Regions from separate parts of the Homo sapiens genome. Here region 1 is linked to region 2. Evidence: fine-mapped expression QTL. Tissue or cell type: whole blood. Region 2 holds a variant in brackets; the other region holds the start of a gene. All regions are shown on one strand. Distances are from middle to middle.

The links.
Region 1: DOCK10 starts here. The variant in region 2 is fine-mapped to the expression of DOCK10 in whole blood (TOPMed, PIP above 0.99).

Annotation. Positions count from the first base shown.
Region 1 is chr2:225,037,636-225,053,874 of GRCh38, reverse strand. DOCK10 (dedicator of cytokinesis 10) reads left to right here and starts at 11,407. Exons shown (of 56, transcript NM_014689.3): 1 at 11,407-11,623. The coding sequence starts at 11,501. RefSeq lists silencers at 11,011-11,380, 11,571-11,810 and an enhancer at 12,361-12,700.
Region 2 is chr2:224,978,957-224,986,956 of GRCh38, reverse strand. The region is part of intron 1 of DOCK10 (dedicator of cytokinesis 10); the gene reads left to right. Among named protein-coding and RNA genes, the nearest start is that of MIR4439, 28 kb to the left of the region's middle. The variant A/T (reference allele first, on the strand shown) is at 3,284.

The sequences.
Region 1 (16,239 bases), 63 kb before region 2:
ACACACACACACACACATATAGAAGAAAACAAAAGCAGAAAAGGGTAGTGCCAACCTGATGTCTGTATGGAATACATATACGTGTGTGTGTGTGTGTGTGTGTGTGTCTGTGTGTATTTTTTTCTTTTTTTTTCTGAGACGAGTCTTGCTCGGTAACCCAGGCTGGAGTACAATGGCGTGATCTCGGCTCACTTCAGCCTCCTCCCCCTGAGTTCAAGTGATTCTCCTGCCTCAGCCCCTTGAGTAGCTGGAACTAAAGGTGTGTGCCACCACCGGACTAATTTTTGTATTTTTAGTAGAGACGACGTTTCATCATATTGGCCAGGATGGTCTCGAATATTTTATTGAGCCTTGGGACTCATACTCAGGTGCTTTTAAGTAGCTCCAGTCTAAGCATTTCTGTAACAGCAAACAGGCTGTGTGGTAGTGTTAGGAAGGCCTCTTGTTAATGTCAGCTTGGAGCTTTGTGCACATGATGACACTAATAGCACCTTTTTAAAAACTACAAAAAGTACTTTGACTTTATTATGAATTTTTAGACTAGTTGCATGATAATGACTCTCTCATTGCTTTTAAGATTTCAATAAAAATAGCTATTTTACTTCTTTTTGTCCCTCTAGCAAATCAACAAATAAGGAGAAAGGGGACAATATTCATGATTAGCTCAGAACAGAAACACATTTTCAAGCCTACACATGAGAAACTGCTAAAAGATAAAGCTACAAAAAACCCTAATCTAGTTGTATTAATAAATTCTAATGATCATGGGGGGAAGAACAAAAACCCACTGGCTTTTATTTGAATAGACATCCCCAAGACCAGTCAATCTGCCATTTTTGCTTTGGGCTTCAGAAATGCTGCACAGTTTGCATTGCTTTCCTTCCTCTGCCTTACACCCTTTCAAAAACTGAGCTCTGGGCAATGCTGTGATATTTCTATTTCACTTCTTTTTACCACAGCAAGAGCAAAGGCAAGCAGAGTCCATGCACAGGAAATGGGTTAGTGCAAATACAAGTATACACAAAAACCACATGACTGGAAGGGAGCTGTGACAACTGAAAGATATTTTTTAAGAGAAACATTTCCTGGAAAAAAAAATGGTTTCTTTAAATCAATTATACATGTACATAAACAAACCCAAAATATGTTTTCTCCAACTGTCTTCAGCTCACTTGATCAGGGTATGAAATTAATGTTTTGAAAAACTTCAGAAGCCTTATAAACTTTGTAGCATTCATCTAAAACTTTGGAAGTGTTAATGTATTTCTTTCTGAGACTATTAGGAAAAATGCTTCCTCTATCTCTTTTAAAAGATAAACAATCACATTTGATAAGTATACATTTGGTATAACGTTCTCTGAATATGTAAGGAAAACAGCAAAATAATGCTATGACTTCTAATTATTGAGCAACGTGCAATATTAAAAACAACAAATCATATATGCATATATATTTGATGAAATACTTGTATCCAAAAAATACAAATTAAATTTAAAAAACCAGTAAGAAAAAGACTGACAATACAATTTAAAATGGGCACAGAATTTGAGATTGAGATTTTCTGTTTTTTTTTTTTCACTTTAAGTTCTAGGGTACATGTGCACAACATGAAGGTTTGTTACATATGTATACATGTGCCATGTTGGTATGCTGCACCTGTTAACTCATCCTTTACATTAGGTATATCCCCTAATGCTATCCCTCCCCCATCTCCCCACCCCCCAGCAGGCCCCAGTGTGTGATGTTCTGTACCCTGTGTCCATGTGTTCTCATTGTTCAATTCCCACCCATGAGTGAGAACATGTGGTGTTTGGCTTTCTGTCCTTGCGATAGTTTGCTCAGAATGATGGTTTCCAGCTTCATCCATGTCCCTATAAAGGACATGAACTCATCCTTTTTTATGGCTGCATAGTATTCCATGGTGTATATGTGCCACATTTTCTTAATCCAGTCTATCATTGATGGACATTTGGGTTGGTTCCAAGTCTTTGCTATTTGGAATAGTGCCACAATAAACATACGTGTGCATGTGTCTTTATAGCAGCATGATTTATTCTGTTTTCTTTTAATTTGGCTTTTTGTATTAGACTTTCTTTTTTACTAATTTGCTCATTTTTTATATTTTTCTTGTCCGTTAGTAAGAGATCTTTATATAATAGAGATATTGGCTTTTCTTGTTTATTTGTATTACAAACATGTACTAAATTATGTCATTTATATACTGGCATTTTATTAATATTGCCATAATGAAGATTTAAGATTTTATGTATTTAAATAGTACTATATTTTCTTCTATAGCATCTGATATTCCTCTCTTGGTTAAGAAAATAGCTTATTAATGAAAAAAATAAACAGTACAAAGTCAAACTAATAAAACAACTACAAGTTCCTTGAGGAGACTACTACAGTAGATAATCCCTCTTGAGAACCCAATTAAGGAAAAAAGGAGGAAGTAAAAATATTCGAGATTAAGAATGAGAAAAGCGATTAGCCACTAATTGAGGAAGGATTTTAAAATCTAAAAACTTTCTGCACAGCAAAGGAAACAATCAACAGAGTGAAAACACAACCTACAGATTGGGAGAAAATGTTCTCAAACCAACAGAGGGCTAAATCCAGAATATACAAGGCATTCAAACATTTCTACAACAAAAAACAAATAATCTGACTTAAAACATGGGCAAATGATCTGAACAGACATTTCTCAAAAGAAGACATACGTATGGTCAAAAAATATATGAAAGAATACTTAACTCCACTAATTATCAGGGAAATGCAAATCAAAACCACGATGAGGTATCATCTCACTCCAATTAGTATGGTTATTATCAAAAAGACAAAAAAATAACAAATGCTGGCAAGGATGTGGAGAAAAGTGAACTCTTATACATTGTTGTTTAAGAATGTAAAGTAATAAAGCCCTGTGAAGAAGAGTATAAAAGCTCCTCAAAAACTACAAATAGAACTACCGTATGATCCAGCAATCCTACTACTAGGCATTTATCCAAAGGAAAGGAAATCATTATATGAAAAGCATTTGTACCCCCATGTTTATTGCAACACTGTTCACAATAGCCAAGATACGGAATCAACCCAGGTGTCTGACAACAGATGAATGGATAAAGAAAAAGTGCTATATATACACCATAGAATACTATTCGGCCATACAAAGAATAAAATCCTGTCATTCAAGGTAACATGGATGGAACTAGAAGATATTATGTTAACTGAAATAAGCCAGGAACAGAAAATTAAACCACTCATGTTCTCACTCATATGTGGTAGCTTAAAAGAGTTGATCTCATTAGAACAAAAAATGCTAGAGGCTAGGAAGGGTAGGGAGAAGGAGAGAAAGGGAGTCATTTGTTAAAGGATAGAAAATTACAGCTAGATAAAAGGAATAAGTTCTAGTGTTTCATAACACTGTAGAATGACTATAGTTAACAATAATGTTACTATACAGTTTCAAATAGCTAGAAAGAGAATATTGATTATTCTTAACACAAAGAAATGGCAAATGTTTGAGACAATGAATATGCTAATCACCCTGATCTGATCACAGTGCATTGTATAATTGTTATGTGCAAATTTAAAAAAAATAATTTTTTTAAAGTATGTATTTTAAAAGGCTTCAGATAAAAAGCAACAAATTAGGCTTGGCACGGTGGCTCACGCCTGTAATCCTAGCACTTTGGGAGGCTGAGGTGGGCAGATCACGAGGTCAGGAGTTTGAGACAAGCCTGGCCAATATGGCAAAACCGTGTCTCTACTAAAAATACAAAAATTAGCTGGGCATGATGGCGCGCACCTGTAATCTCAGCTACTCAGGAGGCTGAGGCAGGAGAATCGCTTGAACCTGGGAGGCGGAGGTTGCAGTGAGCCGAGTTCGCGTCAGTGCACTCCAGCCTGGGCAACAGAGCGAGACTCTATCTCAAAAAAACAACAACAACAAAAAATTAAATGTTAGCAAAAGATAACAAAACTTGGAATAACTGGCTTGGTCTCTTCGAAAAGTCAAAGTCATTATCAAAAATGGGAGGAGAATGGTTTCAAATTAAAGTCTTAAGAGACATGACAACCAAAGCAATGCATCTTCAAGATTAAATTTGAGATTGATCAAATCAGCTGAGAAAAAGTTATTTGGGGGACAATTGGAGAAATTCAAATATGACCTGGATGACAAAAAAAATGAAGGAATTGTTGTTGAATTCAATGTGTTAAATAATATTGCAGTTATGTAGGAGAATATTCTTACTTTTTGGAGATAAATGCTGAGCTATGTAGAGATGAAAGGTCATGATTTCTCCAATTTAAAATAGTTTAATATACCTGGAGGATTTATGAGTATTCATTGTGTTCTTTGTAATACTTTTTAGCCATGTTTAAAATATTTATAATAAAATTTTAAAGAATACATAACAGAAGGGAACACATATCATTCAGTGTTACATGCAATTCTAAGGCAAACATTTCTAAAATCTAGAAAAATGGGATGATATTATTAGTAAAATATAAATTATTAAGAAATAAAAGATGTGAAAAATCTTGAATAGACCAATTACCATACAAGGGATTTGAAAATGATTATAGATCTCCTATTAAAAAATGTACCAAAACCAGATGGTTCCACAGCTGGATTGTATCCAACCATTGGAGAACGAATAAGCCCAATGTTATTTAAATTGCTGTAGACCATGGAAAGAGGCAGAAAGCTCTCCAATTTAATTAAGGAAGCCAGAAAAATCTCCCTGGCAAAATGTCACATTAGTTCCAAAAATAAAAAAGGTAGACCAATGTCACTCATATGTGTAGATGCAAAATTCTCAATGAAATATTAGACAACAGATTTATTTTTATGTTGCTCTCTTTAAGAAACAAAAGAAATAATTATGATAGAACTTTTTTACATATCAAGTTCTATTTCTGTGAGACTAGTAGATATCAGGAGTAATCACCACACTGGAAAAATGGAGGAGAACATTAAAATGTCTGGAAAAATAAAGTAAGTACAAGGGTTTAATTATGCACGTAAGAAATAAAAATGTTCCCATCTAATATTTACTAATCTTTTCCTTCTTCATATGGAGCCAAAATCTGCCTCTGAGTAACTTTTACAGATGGAGGAAAAAAAGATCCTGGGACATTAATTCCCTTAGGCTAGACTACAAATAAAAGCCAAAGTAGGATAGAGAACCTAGAGACTGGTTGCCAGTTAAAAATAGTCATTCTTTTCTTTCAATCATGTACCTCTGTTTGCACTATGCCCCAAGGATTCTGGTGGACTAATAGTGATAGAATGCCACACTGCATGCGTATTGGCACGATATACAGCCTGGCAGTGTTTCAGATTCAAATCATATTACTTTAAGTGTAATTTTCTCCCAAGAAGTGATCTGTCTTCTAAACACAGTAAGAAATACATATCAGATTTAATACCTTTTTCCATAGACAACATGGAGGCACTCAGCTTTTTCAGATGGCTTCAGCTCCAGCAAGAACTCAAGAACTAATAGACCCCATTAATATCATACCTTTCAAACCATATTTTTCTTGTAGCTCTTTAATATTCTCTTGGTAAGGTTAGGAAAAATGTATCTTATGAAATAGTATTCAGCCAAAACACCACTGGATGTACATTCAATTGCTTATTTTTTTCTTAGTGTTAGGAATCAAGATGTGCTGTGGCAAAGTATTTTTCCAACAATTTGGTTTACAATTCTGATACTTTACTTATTGCTGAATATGACAAGCATTATACTTTCAATAAACAAAATTATTTTAATTTACCCACCCAATTACACTACTACATTATCAAGGCAAGTCACCTGCCTCTGTGGACCTCCATTTCTATTGTAAAAATAAGACAAATATACTTTTCCCTTAATAAAGGAAGGTTTCCTCAAAATTGACAAATGGGATCTAATTAAAGAGTTTCTGCACAACAAAAGAAACTATCATCAGAGTGAATAGGCAACCTACAGAATGGGAGAAAATTTTTGCAATCTATCCATCTGACAAAGGTCTAATATCCAGAATCTACAAGGAATTTAAACAAATTTACAAGAAAAAAAGAAACAACCCCATCAGAAAGTCGGTGACGGATATGAACAGACACTTCTCAAAACAAAACATTTATGTGGCCAACAAACATATGAAAAAAAGCTCATTCATCACTGGTCATTAGAGAAATGCAAATCAAAACCACAATGAGATACCATCTCACTCCAGTTAGAATAGCGATCGTTAAAATGTCAGGAAACAACAGATGCTGGAGAGGATGTGGAGAAATAGGAATGCTTTTACACTGTTGGGAGTGTAAATTAGTTCAACCATTGTGGAAGACAGTGTGGTGATTCCTCAAGGATCTAGAACAAGAAATTCCATTTGACCCAGCAATCCCATTGCTGGGTATATACCCAAAGGATTATAAATCATTCTACTGTAAAGACACATGCACACATATGTTTACTGCAGCACTATTTACAATAGCAAAGAACTAGAACCAACCCAAATGCCCATCAGTGATAGACTGGATAAAGAAAATGTGGCACATATACACCATGGAATACTGTGCCCCCATAAAAAAGAATGAGTTCATGTCATTTGCAGGGACATGGATGAAGCCGGAAACCATCATTCTCAGCAAACTAACACAGAAACAGAAAACCAAACACCACATATTCTCACTCATAAGTGGAAGTTGAACAATGAGAACACATGGACACAGGGAGAGGAAAATCACACAGAAAACCTGGAAGACAGGTTGATGGGTGCAGCAAACCAACATGGCACATGTATACCTATGTAACAAACCTGCACGTTCTGCACATGTATCCCAGAATTTAAAGTATAATAAATAATAATAATAATTAATAAAATAAAATAAAGGAAGGCTTCCTATAATATCAGAAAACCATTTTAACTTGGGCATTTGTATTCCTATTTCTGTATCTTTCTTTTTTATTAATTAGCAAAATTTCCCTCCTAATTTCCATGCTATCAAATTCTCTCCCAGCTTTCCCTTATGTACGGTGGGGGCAATATCACATGTCCCATGTGCATTTTAGAATGAATGATTGAGAATCAAATGAAATAATGAGTGTGCTTTGTAAATGGTGCAACACTAGACAAACTTGATATAGTTAAGCACTGGGACATGGTGATGCCCAGGCTGACACCCAGGGTACACTGGGCTTGGTATCACTTAGGAAGGGTGGCTCAATGCCATGGAATGGATGCAAGGAGTATTTGCCCCACCTCCTACAATCTCTGGGTATCAAGATCTAATTTAGTCATTTAGTGTGCAAATTTAGTTATTCGTCCAAGAGTCACACTCCTAGACTAATAACTAAATTTACACACTCTTATGTCTGTAGGTATTTTGGAAAATATAGTACAGTTTTCACATTTATACTTATTACTGCTATGAAAAAATTTCTGAAGTCTTTCCTTGCTGATAAGACATGGACACAGTCATGTAGAAGGATGACAGGAGAGGGCTATTGACAGTTGTGGTTTCTTAATTCTATAAAGCTTTGAATTGTACCAGGTCAAGTAATCAGTGCTTACTACATCTTATGAAAGTAAGTGATGCTTTAGTATGAATAAGAAGAGTATCAAATTTTAAAGAAGGAAGAAGGGAAGGAAGGGAGGAAGCAGTGAGGGAAGGAAAGAAAAGGACAAAGAGAGAAAGGAAGAAAGAAGAAGAGAGAAAAGGAGGTAAGTAAAGAGGGGAAGAGAAAGAGAAGGCTAGAAAATTCCATGTTATTGAGACCAATTTTTTCAATCTTATTTAAAAAGTCATAAAAATATGAAGTATAAAATGTTAACATGGGTCCATAGACGCTCCATCTCCAAAATCTTACTCTCACCCCCTACCCACTCACCCATGAGCACCAGTAATGTTTTTTAAGTCAGTTCCTCTGTATGAAATTGAGCTTTTTGGAGACAGAAACATTTTGCTCAGCTCTGTGCCCTCCTAGCATAGTGTGAGATCCTGTCCATAGTTGATATTCCATAAGTGTCTGTTGAGTGGGGTTATTTCTTCCTCAGTGAATGGCTTGTCTCGTGACAACTCAAATGAATTGGCAAATTCAAACACTGATAAAACTTGATTGCAGCCTCTGCATTCTATGTATTAGTACAATCTTGATTTGAGAACATTTAGCAAAATTTGCAACCACTGGTTTCTAAAATGTCTGTTCCATGCATTTGGGGAGCTCTTTTAATGATCCATCTACAATTTTAGACAGCGAGACATGGGATAGATGGGCTGAACAACCCCATTTTATAATATATTAAAATTCAAGTGAAATAATATATGTGAAACTATTATCCAAACTGTAGCACATTATGTTATAGTTACATATTGTTACACAATAGTGGGTTAATACTATAAGGATTACATTGTTATTGTTATTCTTGTTCATGAAATTCCATAGTCATTGATTTGGGTTAAGACATTGTCTCCAGAATGCTCATTAAATCCCCAGCCTTGGCTCCAAGATAATACCCATCCATCCTTCTTCTCGCAAAGGTTCATATGAGAATCAAATATATGAAAAGACATGGAAGTTTGTTTAATTCCTGAGTTATCTGCAAGTGTAGGAATAATAACAGGGTTCATATGAGAATCAAATATATGAAAAGACATGGAAGCTTGTTTAATTCCTGAGTTATCTGCAAGTGTAGGGATAATAACAGTTATTGAAGTCCATGTGCTAGTCACTTTTGAAGAAATTTACACTAATTTAAGTAACTCTCTCAGCAGCCCAGCCACACAACTACTATCTTGATTGCGTAGGTAAGAAACTGAGGCTTACGGAGTTGGGATTTGAACAAAGGTAATTGGACTTCAGAGCATGTATTTTAACCACTATTCTACAATATTACAAGCCCTTGAAGATTCTCTTATTAACTAGCTGTTCCAAGAAACTTAACATACTTCATGATATGTGCACAGATTTGCGTTTACCAAGCATCTGAGCCGAGTTTCTCCAGGGATCTGAGAGATGGGTGGCCAGCAGAGTCAAGGTCCCAAATCAGCAGACCTGAAGTTACATTTCTGTAGCAAAAAATAAGTGTATTTATGCTACAAGGGCAGGGGCAAGGGTCGACACTCAGCTCTCTCTCCTTGGTGCCCGAAGGAAGCTTAACTAAAACCTACATGATCATAAGGGCGGAGGAGAGTCTCTGAAGTATCATTATTGACATGCCCTGGGTGTGAGAGGTATGCTATCAACACTTAAACCTGCCTTCCTACTCGGTGTGACCCACGGAATTAACATCATACAGGGTATGGATTGGGCAAACAGGCATTTGTTCGTTAAACCCTCTCACACCAGTGCTCTGGGTGACCTCCTGAAGCTGGAAAAAGTACAATTAGGTGTATTAATTGTACGATTAACAAATTGTAAGTGACTTTCTGTTACTCGATATTGTTGGAGATTGGGTTGTGTGTGCTACTCAGTGTTTTGGATCAGCGAGTTGCCTTGTGCAGGGCACATTCTGATGTATTATCGATTACTATAGCCTTCCCTTTCAGCACACCTTTCTCTTCTCCTCTCTGACTTTCTCTGTGTCAGGCACACCCAGCTCTCTGACTGCACTAGCCCATCTGAGCCCTTTGTAAAGTCATCCATAAGCTGATATTTATTGAGTGCCTACGTGTGCCAGGCAGTGTTTTGAAACCAGAGACAAAGATTAGGTACCTCTTCTTGGGAAGCTCAAGTTAATTCAAATGTGCTTAATCGGTTCTCTCAGGGGAATATGCATTCAGAGACATCAAGTCTGGGTACACCTGGGAAAGGGTACGGTTGGAGGGAGCTGTTCCTACAGAGATCTTCATGTACCAACACAGAGGCAACCACCTACTTTGCTTACCCTGAAAGGTGGTGTTGCTCCCACACTGAGTACCAATATGAAAGCATACAATACAGGTACAGTTATTTGTTATGCAGGCTGTCTTGGAACTAGATGATGTTTCAAATGGCACTTCCCAAATCTGCCAGAGCCTCTTACCCTCTTACGCCTGTTATGATTTCTAGAATGTGCTGAAATGATCCCCAAACAGCATCTCTGGCTAATTGAATCCTGGCTAACAAAGAGCTGACTAAAGTGCATTTATCAATTGCTTAAGAATTCTTTATACCCAAATGTGACCTTGTGTTATAACTATCTATCATTGGCTTTAGAAAGTGGCAGGGTCATGGATCCATAAAAAGCTGTTAAGAAAAAACCAGACCACTTGGAAAGGCTGTCCCAGATCTCTCCAGACCAGTATCCAGGGGCCAGAACTTCTCTGCCCCCCATCCAGTCCAACACTGAATTGCAGAACCACCCTGGGTATGACCCAGGAAGAGACTTCTTAGAAGGCTTTCATCAGATACCTATCTAGAGGCAAAGTGCAGGCTAGATGGGTATGGGCAAGAGAAGAGCAGAGACAGCATAACTGTGAAATCCACCCCCGACCTGACCACCCTACATAGTAACCCTGCCAGTTGGTTCTTGCCTACTCATCCTAATGCCACCCAAAGTCTCTTACCCCCAGAACGCTGATTTATTGGTTTTGAGTTCGTGTTAGTAGCTTAAACTGTCTCCTTGATTTCTCTGTATTTGTTTATTTGTTCGCTTGGTTACTTGCTGTCTCCCACCCCTACCCCGAAAAAACCTATCAGCTCTACACAGCCTTAAAGTGTAGTTGCTAAGTTCCTCTCCGTATCCTCAGTTTCCAGAACAGTGTGAGCTGGCATATAGTAGGCGCTTAATAAATACTCATTGAAGGAGTGAATGAATGGGGAAGCTTATTCCAAGGCCCTGAACATGGACTTCTGGCAAGGGAGCCTTCCAAACGCTGGCTTGGGCGATGCTGCTGGGATCCCAGCCACCAGATCTTTAATAAGCCTCTGACCCCTTCCCGAGGGTGGAAGGGCGAACCGAGCTTGGCCCCCACCCACTAGCCGGACCCAGAAAATAGAAGTCTAAACGGCAAATGCATCCAGGGCTCCAACTCTCCCAGCAACCTCCAAATGAGGCTGACGGCCTTGGACAGGCGACGGCCTTGGACAGGCCCCGCCCGGAGCCCCTCGGCGGCCGCCCCCCGCCCTCCCCCGCAGCCTGCAGTTCCCCCGGGCGGCGTGGACAGCCCCGGCCGGCCAGCTGAGCCCGTGTGGGCGGCGCGGGCAGGAGCCGCCCCACACGCGTCCCGCGACGCCCGCTCCAGATGCGCCGCTGCAGGGCCCGGCCGCCAGCCGAGTTGGCCGCGCGCGCCCGGGGGAGCGCAGAGTTTGGAAAGTCTTCGAGAAGCTTCAGAGGAGGGAAGGGGGTGGGAAGAGTGGGGGTGCAAGAGAGAAAAACCCGCCTCTTGCGAGTTGAGCGAGGAAGAGGGGGGGGAAGGCTCCGAGTTCCGCTTCCTGAACGGCGGGTGGATAGAGAAGGTTGGCGCGGGGAAGACCGGCGGGAGGCGCGCCCCGGGCCCGCGGCGCGATTGGCGTGACCGGCGATGGCCGGTGAGCGGACCCGCAGGTTCACCCGGAGCCTGTTGAGACCTGGGCAGGCGGCCGAGCTCCGGCACAGCGCCGCGTCCGCCGCCGCGGTGGCAGTCAGCAGCCGGCAGCAGCAGCGGGTGAGTGCGGCGCGTCCTCCGCGCCTTCCCGCGCGCCCCAGGCGCCCGGGGGGAACGGAGCCCAGCTTCCCCAAAAGCTCGGCGGGCCCAGGTCCCCGCAGCTCACGGGTCCTCTCCTCCGCACTCCCTCCCCCGCCGCCTCTGCGGGCTCCCCCGGCGCCACCTCAGCGAGGCAGCGCCACCGACGCGTAAGGACCGGGGGCGCGTTTGTGCACGCGGGACGCTCAGAGGAGCAGCTGCGTGGGTAGCAGAAGCGCAGCGTGGGAGAGGATGTGCAGGGGCTTTAATGGGGCGCGAGGGGGCCGGAATGCACCGCCAGTCACACTGGTGCTAAGTGATACGAGTGCCAGAGACCCCGGGTGGGGTGGGGGGATCTACAGAACAGAACCCCTGAGTCCGGAGGTCTGCGCGTCCCTCTCACCCTCCAGTAAACAGACCAGTGCGCTGAGAGAGAGGGATGCAGTCCGTGGTCCTCGCCCTGGTTAGAGCTGGGGCCCCCCGACGTTAACTATCGCAGAAATAGATGTACTTGGAACAGCCCTCCCACCGCAGGGTAAAAACCCACAAACCACTTAATACTCCTCCAGAAAGGGCTGAGGAACACAGGCTGGAGGAGACGTGGGTCATTAGGTCTCCAGCGGTTTCTGATATTTTTCTAAGATGTTTCGCGGGGTTCTCCCACCAGCAATGCTTTACTGGTTACTTCCTTATTGAAACGGCTTCTAAGTGCTGGGTGATTTCCGCGGGAAGTCCCTGGGGCAGCAGCCAGCATCTGATGCTAGGATCCTATCCATACCAACCCAGATGTTCCTGCGTTGCAGTAGGTCCACACTGCCGGGGAGAGGTGGCAAGAGACAAATCAACTCTAGTGGAAACGGGAAGCGAGTGGGAACAACAGCCTCACAGCAAGACCGGGGCTCAGCAGCCGCGCTCTTGGCCTGCGTTTGGTGGACCGGAATCCGGGTTGTGTGTTTCATTTTCTTTTTTGCCAGAAAATATCATTAGGAACTAAACGGCTCTTTTTAAGAGTGTGAAAGTGTTACTCTTGCCAGTCACCAATGAGGAGGGCGCCAAAAGCTTCCCAGAGCCAGTTCCCACAGCCAGGACTATTCTCTAAAGCCAGAGGTCGGAAAGTTGAACAGAACGGAAGCAAATTGCCTGGCAGAGGGAAGAGGCATCGGGTGCCCAGGGGGTGTAGAGCGGGCGGGGGTGATTGGAGTGTGAAACGAATTGGTGGCCAGGGTGCCTTCTCTTGCACTTACACTAGCTGCAGTCCGCAGTTACCCAGAGGTGGTTCAACTGTTAGCTCACTCTGTGCCAGGGACAGCATGTGGTACTGCTATCAGCGTGCACATTTTCAGGACACCAAAGACAAACTGTTCAAAAGAACATTAGAAGAAAAGATTCAATTCGAGTAAAAGTAGAGATAAGAAAATCTCCACACAGTAGTAGAAAGTACTTTTTACTTTTGAATGATCATTCAGAATTGTGGTTTTGTCATTTTCTGCCATTCCCTTGACAAAAACTTTATTTTGCAATTGACTCATTGGACTGAATCTCACTGAGGATCTGATGGAAACACACAGCGTTCAATTGGAATAAACAGCTTAAACTGTTGTGTGTTTTTTTAAATGTAGATCCTCCTAGAATTTTTGTGGCACTAGAATTTCTATAAAGATTATGTATCCCAGATACCCTTCTACACCACACACACACACACACACACACACACACACACGCACTGCTTTCTCCAAAATTATGTCAGATTTGAAATCCTAGGGTATCTTGTCAAAATGAATAAGCTCGCTGTCTTTAAAAAGAGGTGGGGGAGGGGAGATTCAGTGGCAAAGGTGGTCCTGACTCCCCTTGCTTCGCTTCAGCACCTTGGCCAACACTCCTAAACTAGCTTTTGCCAAGACATTTCATGGGATCTTACACATCTAGGCAGGCAGTTTTGGCTGCTATTTTGGCAGCAAGAACGCATGTGCTTTGCATACTATCCCATCAGTTAACTCTTGAAGGGAAACAGGAAGGTGATGAGTTCTCTGAGCTGGCACCTGAACTCGGTGGGATTCTGTGGGTGTAGAGCATCCCTTCTGAACCTAAAACCGTGTCATTGGACTATGTGGTAGAGACTAATCTTAGCGTACATTGATGCAATCCCTTAAGACTCTTCATATCTGTTGCTTCAAGTTCTCAAAACATGGTTGTCAAGGGAGAAAAATGATAGGATGTTGGGGAAAATATTATGGATATCCGACTTCAGTACAGACTCATAGAACCGCGGGTGTGTATTGGAGCAAGCCATCCTCTATTGCAAGGTATTTGAAAGAGACTAGAAACTCCTGCTGAGAAAAAGTATCTTACTGCTAGATTTGTATATTCCCCTTTCTGAAATCCCTGTCTTGGGGACACAAATCCTCCAGGACATTGCCAAAAGATTGCCATAGGGTTTGAATTCTGCTCTCTCCAATAAGTTTAGGTAAGGTTGTCAGGTTAACAAGATAGTTTTCTTCCCTGAGAATGGGGTGTGTATACAGAGAGAGAGAGAGAGAGAGAGAGAGAAGACAGGAAGCCTTCAAAATGTGTTTGAATATGGAGAGGAGAGATCAAGGAGATGCTGAGTGAGGGTAATGACTGGGAAAGCCAAATTTTAAGGCAGTTGTTGAGGACAATACAGGTGTATGCCAAAGCAAATTTGATGTCAGTTTTTACCCAAAGCACTGTATGTAGTAGGCTTATGTACTTGCAGACTCCTAGACACGAACCACCTTATTCTTCACCCCTCCCAAGAACAGTAATGAACAAAAACATACATTTCAAAAGGAGAAATATTTGCTCCTTCATTATCCTAAAATTCCCCATAGAAAATAAATGAAAGACAACTCATTCGAAGATCAATTCAAAGGATCATGTCAAGTTCTCATAATTTCCTGAAATCTCATTCCTGATTGTTTCATAAAGCAAGCTTCTCTAGGGTAGAATTTCAGCCCGAAAATGATTAGAAACATTTGTCTCATATCAGAACTGGAGTGTTTTATTACATTGGTTGAATATACATACCATGTTGGCTTCAAAGTTGTAATGCCACTAATTAGAAATTCCTTTTTGATAAGAAGCTCATCTTTTAAAATGAATGAAGTGTATCTGTACCCTAGCATGAATTAGTTCATTTAGATAGCTTTCTATAATTCATTAAGATATACATTTAGGATTTGTGCACTTTTCTGCATATATATTGTATTTGAGAGCATTTCAAAAGAAAAGACTTTTTAAAAAAAGTATAGGTAAACTTTTTGCAAACACCCCATCAGATCTGTCACTTTGAGAGAAATGGAGTTTTATTTATGGAATGTTTTAGGTGGGTTAGTGCAATGGAAGGCTTCAGATAACCAGAAGGATGAGATCTACATAGAGTCAGATGATGGAAAGGAAGCATTTACTAGAGATCAAATAATCATTTGGTCAGTTTTAGCCCAAAGCCGTTCATCTATTTCCTAGACTGGAGCTTACCACTTTAGTTACATGCACTTTTAATGCCTTTATATTTACTCTATTATTAGACAAAAACTCCTTTGCAACTCCTTTTTAATTGTATCTAATTTTGTTATTAACTCATTTTAAAGAGAAAGCATCCTGCCGGAAGTGATTATACTTAACCAGGAGGTTTTCTCCCTTCCTACCCACCCAGAAAGTGTAAGGGGTAAAGAGGGGAAAGTATTTATTTCAGTAAATTCCATTTCCCTTCTTTGATGTTTCCTAACTCTTCAGACCTCCAATAATACCACTTTTGATATTTTAGAGAGCTTTGAGTAAGAAGCGGAACCTTTGACCAACCAAAGAGCTTTGATTGAGAAGTAATGAATATGTAAACATGTTTACGTGAGCGTGAGGAATTCCTAGAAGGAAGAATTTTCTCCCCTCTGAACTTGGTGGCATTCAAGAGTTGAGAGTAGGAGGGATTTTTTTTTTTTTAATTGAGTGGGGGATACTGGAATTTCCCAAAAGTCATATGCTAGATGCAGAAAGTGATAGCAAATGAAAGTGAAGCACTTGTTTTGCTGTCGCTATCCAGATTTAAAAGCAATATGCAATATAAGGGCCTGGTTGTTTAGCATTCACAGCACAGTCTTTTTATTTTGTTTGTGTTTTTTGCTTTGTTTTGTTGTTTGTTGTTCTGGACAGAGTCCTTTATGACAAGGGTGTTTATGGTTTAGCAGAAATCACACGGTTATGTTTTCATATGAGGAAAGTCCCTTGACCTCTTTGCCTGGAGAAGAAGTCAACACAAACTTAGTTTACAAGATCAAGTTTGAATGTTACTTGTGTGTCTGCCAATGTTTTTTATTTCTCAAGGGCATTGGAGAAATAACTTTGAAAATGAATAGTAACCACAAGTAGGTTCTAGAAAACTTCTAGAAGGATCAAAGGCTGAAAGAATGAGTCAACATGTATAGGTTTTGGCTTTTTCTCCACAACCAGATTCTCTAAGGCCTAGCATAGAAAAAGAAAGCAATAATGAATGCATTAAGGTAAATAATTTGTTAAGAATGTACGATGTGCCTGGCACAGTGTCAAGCATTCTATTTAATTCTCAGAGCAATCATTTGAGGAAG
Region 2 (8,000 bases):
AAGGCGGGGGTTAATTCAACCTGGGGGAATTAAGAGCCTTTCTCCGAGGAGGTGATGATTCCCTTGAGGCTTCACTGTTAGAATATGGTTTTCCCAGGCAAGGTCCTTGTATTGGCCTGCTAGGGTACTAGGGCTGCTCTAGCAAAACACCACAGACTAGGTGGTTTAAACAATAGAAACTCATCTTCTCACAGCTTTAGAGGCTGGAAGTTGAAGATCAAGGTGCTCTTAGGGTTGTTTTCTGGTGAAGACTCTCTTCCTATCTTGCAAATAGCACCTTCTCACTGTGGCTTCATATGGCCTTTCCCTTGTGCACACATGAAGACAGAGAGAGAGAGAGAGAGAGCTGGTGTTTATTCCTCTTCTTATAAGGACATTAGTTCTAGAGGATGAAGGCCCCACCCTTATGACCTCATGAAACCTTATTACTTTCTTAGAAGCTCTATCTCAAAACAGAGTCACATTGGCGCTCAGGGTTCCAACATATGAATTTTGGGGGGACATAATTCTACCCTTAAACTCTTAGCCTTTCCATAAATTTATCTTTATAAATAAGTTCTGATCATGACCTTATTAGGATCCTGAAATGGACCCACCAGAAACTCACAGTGTGTGAAGCAATGAAACCAAGCTGCATAGCATCAGGGATATCCAAAAAGCCCTTGAGGCTGATTTTGTTAGGCTTCATTTCTCAATTTTTTATTTCTCAAATATTTTATCTAAGCTCATCTTTGTTTTTACAAGACAAGCATCTGTTAGCAGCAGTAGTTTTCCGTGTACTTGATGCCTTATAGAGGATAGCAGAAAACCTCTCCCCATCCAAGGTCAGCATTATGTGTCAGAAGACTCAGATGCACCAGGTCTTTTGGGGAGGAGAAGAATGTGGGCTTCACCTCCATCATGCCAAAGCACAGTCCAATTTGACACGGTCAAAACAGACGTAGGTATTTTGCAATAGATTAGATATATAGATTTAGACACACGGCTCTTACATAATTTAACAAAGCTGGGAAGGTCCAACACTTTCAATGGACATTATTTATTTAAATTAAATGTGTATTTCCTTGCCCATTGTAAAAAGGTCTTTGGACATATTATCCCAGTGGTGGATATATCAACATGTACAGCCAAATCATTCTTAGGCCAAAAGATTTTAGAAAAGTGCTCTGAAAACTAAATTCATTAGTCAAGATTTGTTGAAGAAGGATGGGCAGTCTACAGCTGGGTAGGTGGACCCCTGAGGCAGAGTCCAGTATCCTCCTAGGATTCAGTACGATTTTGGTGGTTTTTGTTAGTCCCTTCATTCGTTTTTCTCTTTTTTTTTTTCCTCCTTAACCTCCTTTTACTCTCTTGAAATGCCTTACTTTTTCTTCCTACATGTCTTTCTCCCTGGTCAATAAGATGTTAAAAACATCTCCCTCCATCCTTCCTTCCATTTCCTATGAGCATTAAGGCTACTACAGTCTACACAACACGGCTATCTCTGCTTTGAAACAAGAACATTTTTTATTGTACACAAATTTAAGATTTCATAAGTGCTGAATAAATTTTTATATATGAAATAACATACAATAATATGATATAATATAATATATAATTAATGACCCAGGATGAAATCTAGCTTCCAACACTTCTTTGGAAAATTTAGCCTTACGAATTGTTAGTGACATTATTTCCTAATCTAAGACAATTACTTTAAAAATCTTGTTTCTAGCATTTTAGGTTTAATAAATACCTTATTGAATCATAAGATAAGACCCTACTAGGGGAAGAAGGCAGACAAGAGAGTGAACAAGAATCTCCAAAGGTCATTTATTAGTAAGGCCGTGCACATTTGATGTTTGGAGGCCAAATTAATGATTCATCTTATTAATAGTTCAAATAAAAATAGCAGACACCTGCTGAAGAGTTTATACCTAATCTTAAAATATTTCCTGCTTATCAAAAATTAGCCAGGTGTGGTGGTGCACACCTATAGTCCTAGCCACTCAGGAGGCTGAGGCACGAGAATCACTTGAACCTGGGAGGCCGAGGTTGCAGTGAGCCAAGATCCTGCCACTGTACTCCAGCCTGGGCGATAGAGCGAAACTCAACCTCAAAAAAAAAAAAAAAAAAAGTTTCCTGTGTGTCATATGACAGAAACATGGCCTCTGGGTAGGTTTCTGTGTCTCCCACAACCCAACCCAATCTCTAGCTTAATTTGCTATGTAAAACATAGAGCTCAGAACCCAAACCCTTTCTTGCAACTTTCCTACATGTTTGGAATCTTTCATGAGAAAATGTTGGAGAACATACTCAACTCTTCTTTCCTGCGTTTCATCTTTTTTATTTCTTGTCCACTGGATAATGGTTGTGTGTATTGAATTCCAAAGAAACTAATCCTTGGACATTCCTTTAGCTTGATAACAGAGGCTAACAGAGAGAGGAGACAGAATGAGAGAGAGAATATTCAGAGCCTGTCAGCAGCCCGTCAATAATAGGGGTGAATTCCTCAGAGGCAGAGGGGATCGATAAAGGCGGGACTGTAATAGCTAGAAAGCATCTCATTTGTCTCCCTAAAGACTTTGGCATCTGCCAAAACATCTGATTCCAAAAGCCACCGCAGAGGTCAGCCAGATTTAGAGAGAGATGGTTAGAGAGGAGTTTAGGATGTGAAGTGCATCGTGCCTGCCAAGCCCATGGTGGATAGCGGAGGGATCTGTCTTCTCTCTCCAGTTTCTAACTGGGGCTGGTTTACTATTTAAGCGTTTCCAGCTAGCAGCTTGCTGCCTGCAAACTACGCAGCCATGAGCAGATGATCACAACCTACGGAAGTGATTGGAGAGAGATATGTCCTGGGGGATGGGAGTAAGTGGGTGGGGGTGGGCACTGCCATACAGGGAGCCCAGAGGAACTGTCCTATTTGAAAAGACACATTCACAAACAGAGGAGCCCACTCTGCCCTTTGTCTCAAGTGGACACCATTAGATATAGATATTCAATACACACAAGCCAGACAGGCTAAGTCGTAGCCTCTCTTCAGTAAATGCCCTAGTTGTTTAGAGTAAAAATGGTTTAGATTAGCACCCGGGCAGTCTGACAAATGTCCAGAGGGAGTTAGGGGACTTGCCAGCATCATTAGCATTTTTTTTCTTCTTTTTCCAGCAGCACTAAAATATGTTTGCTCAAAACAGAGGGAGATGAAAAACTACTGGCAGCCAGTACTTCTTAAAAGAAAAAGAAGCATGTTTTACTTCTCTGGGGTGAACATACCAATTAAAACGATGCTGTGTTGTGACAGATT[A/T]CTGAGCAATTAATGCCTGTTTGAGCATCATGCTAGATGCTTCCGCGAAAGCAACCTCACTGAGGCTGGGGCGGCCACACGTTACAGCAAAACAATCCTTCCTCAAACTTCCTGCAGCACCCTTCACGCCGAGGAGCCCAGAAACCACAGAAAACATTTTTTTTTCTTTGAATCTCCAAGAGTTACACTGGAAGAATTAGCTTGGCAGAAAGATCTCAAGATTGAATTCTATTGGGGATTTCATACTTTCCTCATTTGTAAGCAAAATCTATTTTCCATGAGATATTTTTAGCGCAAGCAGCTCCAGCTGCCCTATTCCCTTTCACTATACCATTAGATGTTGAGGCCATTCCAGAAAGGACACGTGATTTCTAAGCATCTCTCTTTGGTTCTTTCCTAAGTGACTAGTCTCGCAGGAGTCAGGGAATACCAGACTCTTAACTACCAAAGACCTCAAAGTCCTTCCCAGAGCCTTGAATTCTTATTGATAGGATGTTAAAATGCTTTACAGCTGCTTTTTCTAAGAGGTCAGCTTGGCGGAGCTTGCTCAGTGACCTCAGTAATAGAGATATTTTCAGCCCTGCAAGCCGCGTATGTAAATATAAAATTGTATTAGGCTGCAGAACTGCATGTGTGGGAACAGAACAACCATACTATTGAGAGGAAATCACAGGGGAACACTGGTGTCTCTCACTCAGGGCTGGTTAATGCGTGCATACTTTGGTTAAATCATCTTGATCTAGTGAACTCTATGTTTCAGATAAGCCAGTTTCATTTCTGGAACTTATGAGCTATGAAAAGTAAAACCTCAATCACTTAGTGAGATGTCCAGCAAAATTTCCTTCAGGAAGTGTTTACGTTTATAAAAAAAAAAATCATTTTCACTCCTTACATGATACCTCAGGAAAAATTGTGAGTGTAAAGTCAGGTTTTCAGTTGTGTGATTTGAAAAAGTAATTTATTTGTGTGTCTGAATGGGAAAGACATATTTATTCAGACCTCTGAAAGGAGAATCGAAGAGCTTCATTGTAATGAACAGGAAACATGCTCTCGATGTGAATTGAGAAATACTTTCTGAGCGCAGTGCTCTAATATTCCTGAGTGTGTTCAGTTTCCGTGGATCAAATCTTTCCCATCTCTGCATCCAAGCTATTTGGCCATGATCAGATGATCAGAGCTCAAGGAAGTGATTGGAGAGTGAGCCGGCTGCAGCTGCAGTGTAGGCTGTTTTCAGGGACAAGGAGCCACTGTTTTGCAAACATAGCATCAACATAGAAGTTATTTTGTAGGCTCCAGGATGCAGCGATGGGCTGCACTGCCAGCATTGTTCTGCTTCAAGCTTTTCGTTCTGTGGTCCAGAGGAGCTGTCCACACATTTGTAGACGACGCCAAGAGGAACCATCCCACGAAATTTTGCCTCTGGAAAGTGACGATGAAATGAATAGACCCAGAACCCTCATCATAATGGTATGGTATCCGTGGTAAAGCAGCCTCAGTGGATTGAACTGTTATTATAGAGAGGTTACAATTTAGGGGTTTTGGTGTTTAGCGTTAGATAAAGGCATGTGTGACCTAGAGTTTACTACTCTGAAGTACTGTTTGGGGAAAATCTTTCGGAACTATTTCTATCATTCAAAGAGCATATTTTCTTCTTCTTGTATCTGTCATGAAACTGTACAGCTTCTCGGTCTACCAGAAATTCTCTTCTGCCTCATGGTTTGCATGTTGTTATTACCTTTTGTGCAGAAAATAAGAGAAAAATTTGGAGTTTGGTTTAAGTGAGTGGATTTTATTTTATAACTATAATTTGAAAGAAGAGCCCAAAATGGGCGTTTTTTAAAAATCACATGTAACCATTGAAGTTGTATAGATGCTGATAGTTGGATCTTTAACTTCAGGATATTTGGGGCTTTTCTTTCTGACTCTGCAAAGGAAATGCCTTTCCAGAATGCCTAACTTAGGCACAATATTAGAATAAAGAATTAAGAATTTTGTAGAATGCATAGTGTTTTCATTAGAAAGCTTTTTCTTGCCACTTGTCAAATTACATTTTTGTCTGTGCTTTAATTGTAATAAACAATGTTTTCCTTTTTTGTGCATCTGTTTGATCAGCAAGAATAAATTTGAGGGTAGAGTTCTTTCTTTCTTTAAGTTTAAAAAGAGATCTGCTTAGTCACTAAAATTAGAATAGATGGTATGGTAAAGTTTCCAAAATTGAGGAGACATTGAAGTCTAGGTGGCTTCAGCATAATCGACTTTTTTCTCTTAGATTTCAATGTTGAGATATCAAGGATGTAGTAAATAATGAATGAAAAATACCTGTTACTCTAAAAGTTCTTAAATGAAAGTCATTTGGCTTGGGCTATGCCTCTGAGTGACAGAATACTAAACTATAACATTACTTGCCTACTTCTTCAACAAATCAATATTTTATTTTCAAAAAGCAATATTATTCTTGAACTAGGGGGCTGTGATTATTTCTAAAAGGAAACAGTAAATAGGAATAATTTCATGTTTATTATTCCCATAAGTTTTCACAAATTAAATTTTAAAGGATTTGAAATAGGTTCAAATGTCAAAGAAATCTTTGTTTTCCAAGTTTAACTCTTGTTAATAACATTAACACACTCTTTAACTATGTGTAGTGCTCATGCTATACCAGTAAGTCTTATTTTTCTAATTTTGTTAGTCTATAAAATTTCACAGCTAGAAATTTGCAAAAAAAAACCTTATACCTCAAAATAACTGAGAAATTTTTAAAAACTATTCACCTAGTCATATTTTTCCAAGGATCCTTTTGATTTATATAATACCTTTATTGATATTAAATAAGGTGATAAGAATATACTAATGAGGAAAATAAAGGCTCAGAAAGGTTGAATATCTTAACATTACACAGCTGCTAAATACCAGTTCCCCGAATCACACTTAGAGCAATGATTCCAAAAGCCAGTGTATTTTCCAGTCTGTTCACACTTCTAAGGAAATAATGATAACCGATAAACTGAATTTATGTAAGAAGTCTGATGGAAATCTTGGACTACTCTGAGTAAAATGTGCTCATACAAAGTCATTGTGCATCTTGAAAATTTCTTCTGGGCCACTCCAAAATTCACACACTCGCTAATGGTTTATTGCCAGCCCACTATGGTCCAAGCACTGGTTCAGGCACTTGGAATCCGCCAATGAACAAACCCATCAAAAGTCCCTACCCCAAGTTGCAAAGTTTGAAGGTGATAGAACATTTTGCCAGTGTTGTTGTTATGGAAATGCTATACTACAATTGTGACACTTAGTCTACAAACTTTAGCCAATGAAAATATTTTCTGTTTTCCAAGATGGTGGTTTGAAAATTTATTGTATTTCAAAATCACCTAGGAGTTTTCATTCATGCAAATCCTTGAGCTCTTGACCCCAAAGACTCTGTTTGAGAAGGTGTGGAGTGGAGCTCAGGAACCTGCTCTTGTAGCAAGCACTCCCAGTTGATTCTGACGAAGGAGTACTTTGGATGACACTTTGAGAAACATGGCTCTGGAAGATGGTAATCTAAACTGTCCACCCCTTCTCCTCCTCCAGTGTGATGTTCTTATATTGGCTAATCGTCTTCTTACTCTGGCTCTAAACTTCTGAGCAAACTTTGATTTTTCTTTTTTATTCACTTTCCCACTGCCCATTAGTCACCAAGTATTGTATATTGATTTTTTTTTTTTATAAGATCACAGACTCTGGAGCCAGAACACCTAGGTTGGAATCCTGACTTCATCACTTATCAGCTGTGTGACCTTGGGCATGCTGTTTAACATCTCTGTGTCTCTTTTCCTCTCCTATAAAATGAGGATAGAAATTTTATCAAATTAGAGCAGTTGTATGGGTTTGATAAAGTAAGTGTTAAGTGCTTAGAAAAGTGCCGGGATGTAACGGTAAGACGTTCAATAGGGATGTGATCAGGGACATCCTAACTGAAAAGTGGCATTTGAGGAAAGACCCTAAGGAGTCAAGGGAATGACCCATGCCACTTTCAGCAGGGAAATGCCTTATGCAGAAGGACCCGCCAAGGCGAAAGGCCCTAATGTGGGAAGAAGCCTGGAGTGTTAGAAGAACAGAAAGGAGGCCAGTGTGTCCAGATGAGCCAAGGAGTGGGTCGTAGAAGGCAAGGTCAGGGAGGCAATGGGGTCAGATCATGTCAGGCACACAGCTATCAGGAAGACCTAGGCTTTTTCCAAGTGAGAAAGGAAGCCACTGGAAGAAGCAGGCCCAGAGGTTAAGAGCCTGGGCCATGGAGCCAGAATGTCAGGGTTTGAGTTGTATCTCTGCCACTCACTAGCTGTGTGATCTTGATGAATGACTTGTCCTCCTTGTGTCTTTGTGTCTTCATTGATAAAATGTAAAAAGTAACAGTACCTACCGGTGTAAGGTTATTGTGAGAATTCAGTATGTTAATAGGTGCAAATTGCTTAAAACACTGACTGGTAACTAGTGAGTGTTATATTAACTATAACCCCACTAACTGGGAGGTCCTGAAGCAGGGAAGTAACAGGATCTCTGGCCATAGAGGGTCAAGGGTCAAAGCAGGGAGACCATTAATTAGGAAGCGGTTGCAATGATCCCAAAGACCTGGATGGTAGTTGTTGAGGCTGTGAAAAGTAGTCAGATTCTGGATAGATTTCAAAAGTAGAACCAATAGAGTTTGCCTATGGATTGAATATAAAGTGTGGGA